Homo sapiens: one gene and its partner. The protein of the gene in region 2 purifies or fractionates together with the protein of the main gene of each other region. This does not show direct contact. Each region holds a gene or a part of one and is shown on either strand. Other genes may lie near its edges. The genes, in order: SORT1 and MDGA2.

Region 1 (3,832 bases), on a different chromosome or scaffold from region 2:
ACACTCACAGTTCCTTTCAAGGATATCTTTAAAATCAATGGTGTAGGAGACCCACTGGCTGGTCAGGAAAGATTCTGTGAAGCCCCAAATGCTGATATTCATGGACCTAGCTCCAGGTTCTGAAGCTAGGCCAGTGAAATAGATGGGGTCCCTGGTGAACGTGTAGGTTTGCCAGCATTGACCTTCGTCTGTGGAGAACCTGAAACCACAATTACAGAAAGATCATGACAGAGGATCAATGTGTACTGGGAATTCAGAAAACCACTCTGGCTTTTTGATCCCAAACCAGACAAAACCCCTTACATTTAGGTGGTGGCTTATTGGCTGACAATTATTTTAACTTTTTTTTTTTTTTTTTTTTTTTCTGAGATGGAGTCTCACTCTGTCACCGGGCTGGAGTGCAGTGGCGCGATCTCGACTCACTGCAACCTCTGCCTCCTGGGTTCAAGTGATTCTCTCTCATGCCTCAGCCTCCTGAGTAGCTGGGATTACAGGAACGTGCCACCACACCAGCTAATTTTTGTATTTTTAGTAGAAATGGAGTTTCACATGTTGGGCAGGCTGGTCTTGAACTCCTGACCTCAGGTAATCTTCCCACCTTGGCCTCCCAAAGTGCTGGGATTATAGGCGTGAGCCACCGCACCCAGCCAACTATTTTAACTTTTAACGTCTGTAGTTAACAGGATAAGGAAGAGATTTGTTCAGAGAGAATATGAAAGTAAATACCTTTACAGAAATTATTTCAAAGGAAAGACAGGAGAGTGACCCAGGTAAGAACTGGCTTTTAAATTAATAAATTTAAGGCTGGCTGTGGTGGCTCACGCCTGTAATCCCAGAATTTTGGGAGGCTGAGGCAGGTGAATCACCTGAGGTTAGGAGTTCGAGACCAGCCTGACCAACACAACAAAACCCCGTCTCTACCAAAACACAAAAAACAAAGCAAAACAAAAAACCACAAAAATTAGCTGGGTGTGGTGGTGCATGCCTGTAATCTCAGCTGCTCAGGTGACTGAGACGCAAGAATCATTTGAACCTGGGAGGCAGAGGTTGCAGTGAGCCAAGATTGCACCATTGCACTCCAGCCTGGGTGACAAGAGCAAAACTCCATCTCAATAAATAAATAAATAAATAACAATCAAATTATTTTATAAGAACTTATACTTCTTTTTTTTTTTTTTTTGAGACGGGATCTCACTCTGTCACCCAGGCTGGAGTGCAGTGGTACGATCTCAGCTCACTGTGGCCTTGACCTCCTCAGGTGATCCTCCCACCTCGGCCTCCCAAGTAGCTGGAACCAAAGGCGTGCACCACCACGCCCAGCTAATTTTTCTTTTTTTTTTTTTGTGGAGACAGGGTTTTGTCACATTGCCCAGGCTGGTCTTGAACTCTTGGGCTCAAGCAATCCACCCACCTTGGCCTCTCAAAGTGCTGGGATTACAGGTGTGTGCCTCTGCACCCAGCTCAGAACTTGTACTTAAGAAGTCATTTTCAATCTAGAGTGCTTGAACGCTTCCATAATAATTTTGTAGACAGAAAGAATATATATATATATATATATATATATATATATATATACATACACACACACACACACATATATATACACACATATATACACACATACACATATATATACACATATATATACATATATATACACATATATATACACACACACACATACATATATACACACACACATATATATATATATGGTTTTTTTTTTGATTGAAATAATATTAGAGACAAGGGACAAGGTCTCCCTATGTTGCCCAGGCTGGTCTTGAACTCCTGGCCTCAAGCGATCCTCCTGCTTTGGCCTCCCAAAATGCTGGGATTACAGGCATGAGCCACTGCGCCCAACCCAGAAAGAATGTTTTTAAGAAGTGACAAATATGTTAGCTAAAGGCAGTCAGAAGAAAAAACAATGCCATTTAATCTGAGTTGCCAATTAAAAGCAATCCTTTCTAGAATCTTATCTATAGTTCTGTCAAATGCAAAAATTTGAATTATAGTCTGTAACATCCCCCCAATAAACTGAAGAACATTCCCCCAGTTGCCCTCTATGCAGACAGTGTGTGTGAGATGAGTTCATGCATACTTAATCACATTGATAGGACGGCTGCTGTGCTCAATGGCCACAATGATGCCTCCAGAATCCAGGATGGTGTAATAGTGGGGTCCTTCCAGCATCTTTGTCCAGGAGTAACCCCCATCATCTGAGATGTACACATCTGGAACCATCACTGAGATGGCATCCCCCACGCTACCTGCAATATAATCCACCATCTCATTAGCACAAATAGGCAATGAAACAGAGAGCATTTACTCCAGAGAGAATAATGTTGAATGAATTTATTCTGATTATTTCCCATCAAGCCTCTTTTAGTAGGAAAGAAAACCACCAAAAACTTCGGAGAAGTTGTGTTGCTCTCTCTGATAAAAGTTGATGAAAAACCCAAAGTGTTGTTATAATGTAAGAAATTCTACCAAAGGAATGTAAAAGCATCCACATTGTTTCTTCTCAGAGCGTTCAAAGCCTGTTGGCTGAGTTTCAGTGTGCTCAGCCACTGTTCCAGTTGGAGGTGGTGAGTGGGAGGTTCCTTACCATGAGCAATGACAATGCCTACGGCATTCGGCTCTGAGAGTGGGGCCATTGGAACATTCAGTTTCTGGGAGATGCTGTAGGAAGCATGAATATGAAGGCTGCACTGTGAAAAGAAACAAAAGCGTAGATTAGAACCAAAGATAAAGATACAATTTCTTTAATCATTTCACAAAACCCTTCCAATAAAGCTTTAAGTTAACCCAGACCTAGGTAAAAGTACTATCTTAACTATTTATTTACTATTTAGGTGTATAGTTCAGTAGTGTTAAGTATATTCACATTGTTGTACAACCACATCTCTAAACTTTTTCATCTTATAAAATACAATCACCAATTAAGCAACTGTTACCTACTTCTTCCTCCTCCCAGCTCCTGGAAACTACCATTTTACTTTGTGTTTTCTATGATTTTTACCATATTACTTTGTGTTGGCTACTCTAGGTAGCTCATATAAGTAGAATCACATAATATTTGTCATTTTGTGTCTGACTTATTTCACTTGGCATAATGTCCTCAAGGCTCATCCATGTTGTATTAATAGCATATGTCAGAATTTCCTCCCTTTTAAAGGCTAAATATTATTTAAGTGTGTGTGTGTATCTGTATCCACACACACCCCACACTTTATTTACTCATTTATCTGTCAATAGACACAAGTTGCTTCTACCTTTTGGCTATCATGAATAATGTTGCTATGTACATGGTTGTACAAATATCTTTTTGAGAACCTGCTTTCAACTCTTTTGGATGTATAATCCAGAAGTGGAATTGCTGGATATGATAATCCTATTTTTAATTTTTTTTAGGAACTACTATGCTGTTTTCTGTAGCAGCTGCACCATTTTACATTTTCACCAAAAGTGCACCAGGGCTCCAATTTCTCCATATCCTTGCCAACACTTTTTAAAATAGTAGCCACCCTAATCTGTGTGAGGAGATACCTCATTGTGGTTTTGACTTGCATTTTCCTAATGATTAGTGATGCTGAGCCTCTTTTTATATGCTTGTTAGTCACTTCTATATTGTGTTTGGAGAAATGTCTATACAAGTTCTTTGCCTATTTTTTATTCAGGCTATTTGTTTGTTGTTGAGTTGTAGCTCAGTGGCATACTCTTGATTCTGAAATGTACTACAATATCTGGAAGCAAATATTTCCTCATGGGTAACCTGTCTCCGTTTATTTTATTTTTGCATTACATCAAAGCCTCTGAACAATGTTTAAAG
Region 2 (3,832 bases):
CCTATAAAATGTCCATGTACTCTAACAAGGTAGAAAAAAGATCATCAAAATCTGTATTGAGTCTTCTGCTATATTTGTCCACCAGATGTCTCATCATGGGAATTCCACAGATCAGCAGTTTCACTGTTTAGGTTTTCGAGGCATGATGCAGATGCTTCTGAGTTTACTATAAACCTACAAGTTTGTCAAGTCATGCAAAGAAATAAGTGCAAGCTAATGAGCATCCAAGGACTCTACCATGGAATAATACTGGAAGAAGCAATGAGATATTTTGCAACAATGCCTTTGAAAATTAAGTCTACTGCTGTATAACGATTATATTTTTGCAAATGAGTGACAATCAAGTGACAATAATTAAGAATTTAACTTTCATCAAAATTTTAGGCTAAAATTCACATGCATTTTTCAGCAAGTATGTGAAGTTTTTTTATTTTGTAAAATTGAATTATAGCGTATAGTATATTTAATTATAGCATATAGTATATTTAATTTTTTAATTGAAACATTTATAACAATTTTAACTTACCTGCAGTCTAGCCAGATAAAATATAGCTTCAGTAATAAAAAACTATAAAGTTGTAATAAACCAATATAATTTGCTTATATTCATATCAATGAATATCAGCCCTACAGTAAAAACAATAATTATCACTTTAATATTCTTGAGACTTTCTTCATCCTCTATACTCTGCCAAATATATCCTCCTTCCACTGTCACTAGCGCAATGCTACTTTTGTCAAGTTTTAACTCAAATGTCATTTCTCTGTAAAAGTTTCTTATACCCACATGAACAAAAAATTCACAATTTCTACAGAAGTCCGATCAAGCTTTAAGCACAGTATGCAACCACTATATATTGCCTAGTTTCTACGTAATCTGTCTTGATGATTTAGATTGTAAGCTCCTTAAGGGCAAGGCCTATTTGTACTATCACCATATAACACAGAGTGTATATGTAGCAATAACACAGGAAAGAAATCTAAAGGAAACACTAATTTTAAATTAAAAAAAAAATACTCCCAATGAAACAATTTGCATGTTTAAAGATGAAAGTAAGACAACCTATAATCACATATATCATAGTTTTTATCAATCAAATTCAAACTCCAAAACACATGAGGCCTCTCTTTTCTTCTTTCCTTTTCTTTCCCTCCTCTCCCCTCCCCTCCCCTCCTTTCCCCTCCCCTCCCCTCCTTTCCCCTCCCTTCTTCTCTCCTCTCCAATCTGCCTTGCCTTGCCTTACCTTGCCCTGCCCTACCTTGCCCTGCCCTGCCCTGCCTTGCCTTGCCTTGCCTTGCTTTTTTGAGACAGAGTCTTGGTCTGTCAACCAGGTTGAAGTGAAGTGGTACCATGATAGCTCACTGCAGCCTCAAACTTCTGGCCTAAAGGGATCCTCCTGAGTCAGCCTCCCAGATTGCTGGGATTACAGTGTGAGCCACCATGCCTGGCCCTAAACTGTCTTCTAAAATCAGATCATTGTCTTTTGAGAATATGAATAATTCTGTAAATTAGGATTTACTTCCCTGAAATATTTTGTATTTCAATTTTAAAAGTCATCAAAAACATATGTTGAAATGTGGCTCTGTCATTTAAGAAAAATGATTTTCTGTCTCAGGTAAAAATGCCTTGTGGTATCTCAGCCTCTACTTAAAAAATATCATTATATGACTCTTAAAACACAGTAACACTCAAATTGAATGATGAAGAATTAAAGAGAGAGGAAAAAGAAACAACAGAGTAACAATTGAGATTCGATGTAAGATTTTATATGAAAAACAAAAAGCTCAGAAATTTTCAAAATGTTTTAAAATGTCACCCTAAAATGCCTTATATTTAACATAAAGAAATGCTTAGCCCACAAGTCAGCTACTGACCATTTGGTCAATGCTCAATTTCTTATAATAGAAATACTAGCAAAACCAAGAATCTAACACATCACCACATATATATTTATGTCTTACATTGTTGCTTCCTTTTCTTTGACTCACTCATCCCATTTGTGTGAATTTCCTCAGTATCCTCCAGGGTTCATAAAATTGATATAATCCAAGATTTCCTTGTATGCTATAGCTTATTCATTTTCACTGTTCAAACTATATCCTAGAATACACCTATTTTCATATTAAAGCACTTTAGTCTTCAATAGTATTGGGATAAATATCATTTTAATGATGTCAGTTGAATCATACAATCTCAGATTTATAGAACTTTATACTGCATTCTAGTATTCCACTCTATTGTAAGCAAATTGGAACATCAAAGGTCAGTTTTGGCTTGAAGACAGAATATGTAATCATCTTCAGTAACTCATTCTTTAGGTTAGGCATCATCTTCTGTAGGCCTTCTATCACAATAAAATCTCCTAGGCCATCTAGCCTCAAGAGCCTGCCATCCGTGTAGCCACACTTAGAACAGCCCCAAATTTGCTTTAATGCTTTGATGTTGCCATAGTGAGTTTATTAATTTTTGAACAAGGGGCATGCATTTTTATTTTCACTGGACACCACAAATTGAGGAGCTGCTCCTGTCTTTGGGAGTGATAAAACATTAAGTCACTATAAATTTGTCTATCAAATAACTTTAAGTCAGTAGGGAATTACAATAAGGGCAGTAAGAGGCACAGCAAATGTCTATATTATAGAGACAATGGGAGGGGAGAAAACCTAAAATGAAAGGTGTATGCATAAATTAGTCATTTTGTTAGTTAATAATTATCTGTTTAGTACCTTCTATGTGCCATGTATTGTTTCGGCTATTGAGATTATAGCAATGAGTGATGCAGACAAAGTCTCAGACTTTGTAGAGCTTCCATTCTATGGAGAAACCACATCTATCTGTAGTTAAGTGGGTACTTTCCAGGGGTAGTGTTTTGGAAGAAGTCAATATATTTCTTTTATCTCCAATAGTGTTACCTTGGGTAGCCAGGCAAATTAATGATAGTTAGGAAAATTTAATGATTACAACCAATCTCTTATTACTAATCTTGAATTTTCTTTAAAGGATTGGTGGAAATTTCACAAATCAATGTTGGTCATCTTTACTATTTTGTCATATATAACACATAGTTTCAAACAGGCAATATAACTAGTATGTTTAAAAATAAATGTTAGGGCTCGTTTTGTGAGCCCTGTATATAATGCTGCTTTCTTGTCTCCATTCTGTGCTCCATCTTTTGTCTAAGTTTAATGGTATATAAACTGTGCTCCCATCAAAGGAGTTCTTTTAGATAAAAGCATTGATTCTTTGGATCTGAGCTTTGTGTCACTGGTTCTGTAAAGGAAACAAACAAAAAAAACCCAGCCAAACCAAACCAAACAAAGAAATGGTTTTGATTAAGTCTAGAACATTTATGGGAAACTATCCCTCAGAAAATGAGGACAAATTATCCTGGATCTACAAAATTTGCTCTTACTCTCTTACAGGAAATATTATATTGGAATGTCATACAGTACAGTGTACAGTGTCACCTAGCACACTGAGGTGAAGAATCAATGGATATTTGTTGATTGAATGAATACATAAACAAGTGATAACTGACTGTGTGTATCAACAGTTTTCCCTCAGATATCCTAAAATAATCCATCTCTTAGCGCTAGCACCAACGTTTAAATATGTTAGAATTTTTTTAAAAATGTTTTTATTGTCTCTAGCTTTTTTTTAAGCTAGAAAAGAAATAATGTCCAAACACAAGTACTTTTCATCACCCTAATTTCCTTTTGTTTTAGTGATAGATGATAAAAATTGAATATCTTCTAGGAACAAAGCACAATTGTGCAAAGTTAGCACATTTTTGTTAGCCTGAATCATAAACTTCTATTCTTAAGGAGTAAA

What was found.
Region 1: the proteins of MDGA2 (region 2) and SORT1 purify together in Homo sapiens (affinity purification with western blotting; one study listed by BioGRID). This does not show direct contact.

Annotation. Positions count from the first base shown.
Region 1 is NC_000001.11:109,324,891-109,328,722, forward strand, and holds part of SORT1 (sortilin isoform 1 preproprotein), read right to left. Parts: intron 2,712-3,832; coding exon 2,609-2,711; intron 2,271-2,608; coding exon 2,102-2,270; intron 200-2,101; coding exon 9-199; intron 1-8.
Region 2 is NC_000014.9:47,056,468-47,060,299, forward strand, and holds part of MDGA2 (MAM domain-containing glycosylphosphatidylinositol anchor protein 2), read right to left. Parts: intron 2,914-3,832; exon of another isoform or gene 2,728-2,913; intron 2,530-2,727; exon of another isoform or gene 2,150-2,529; intron 1-2,149. UniProt on the Homo sapiens protein: May be involved in cell-cell interactions.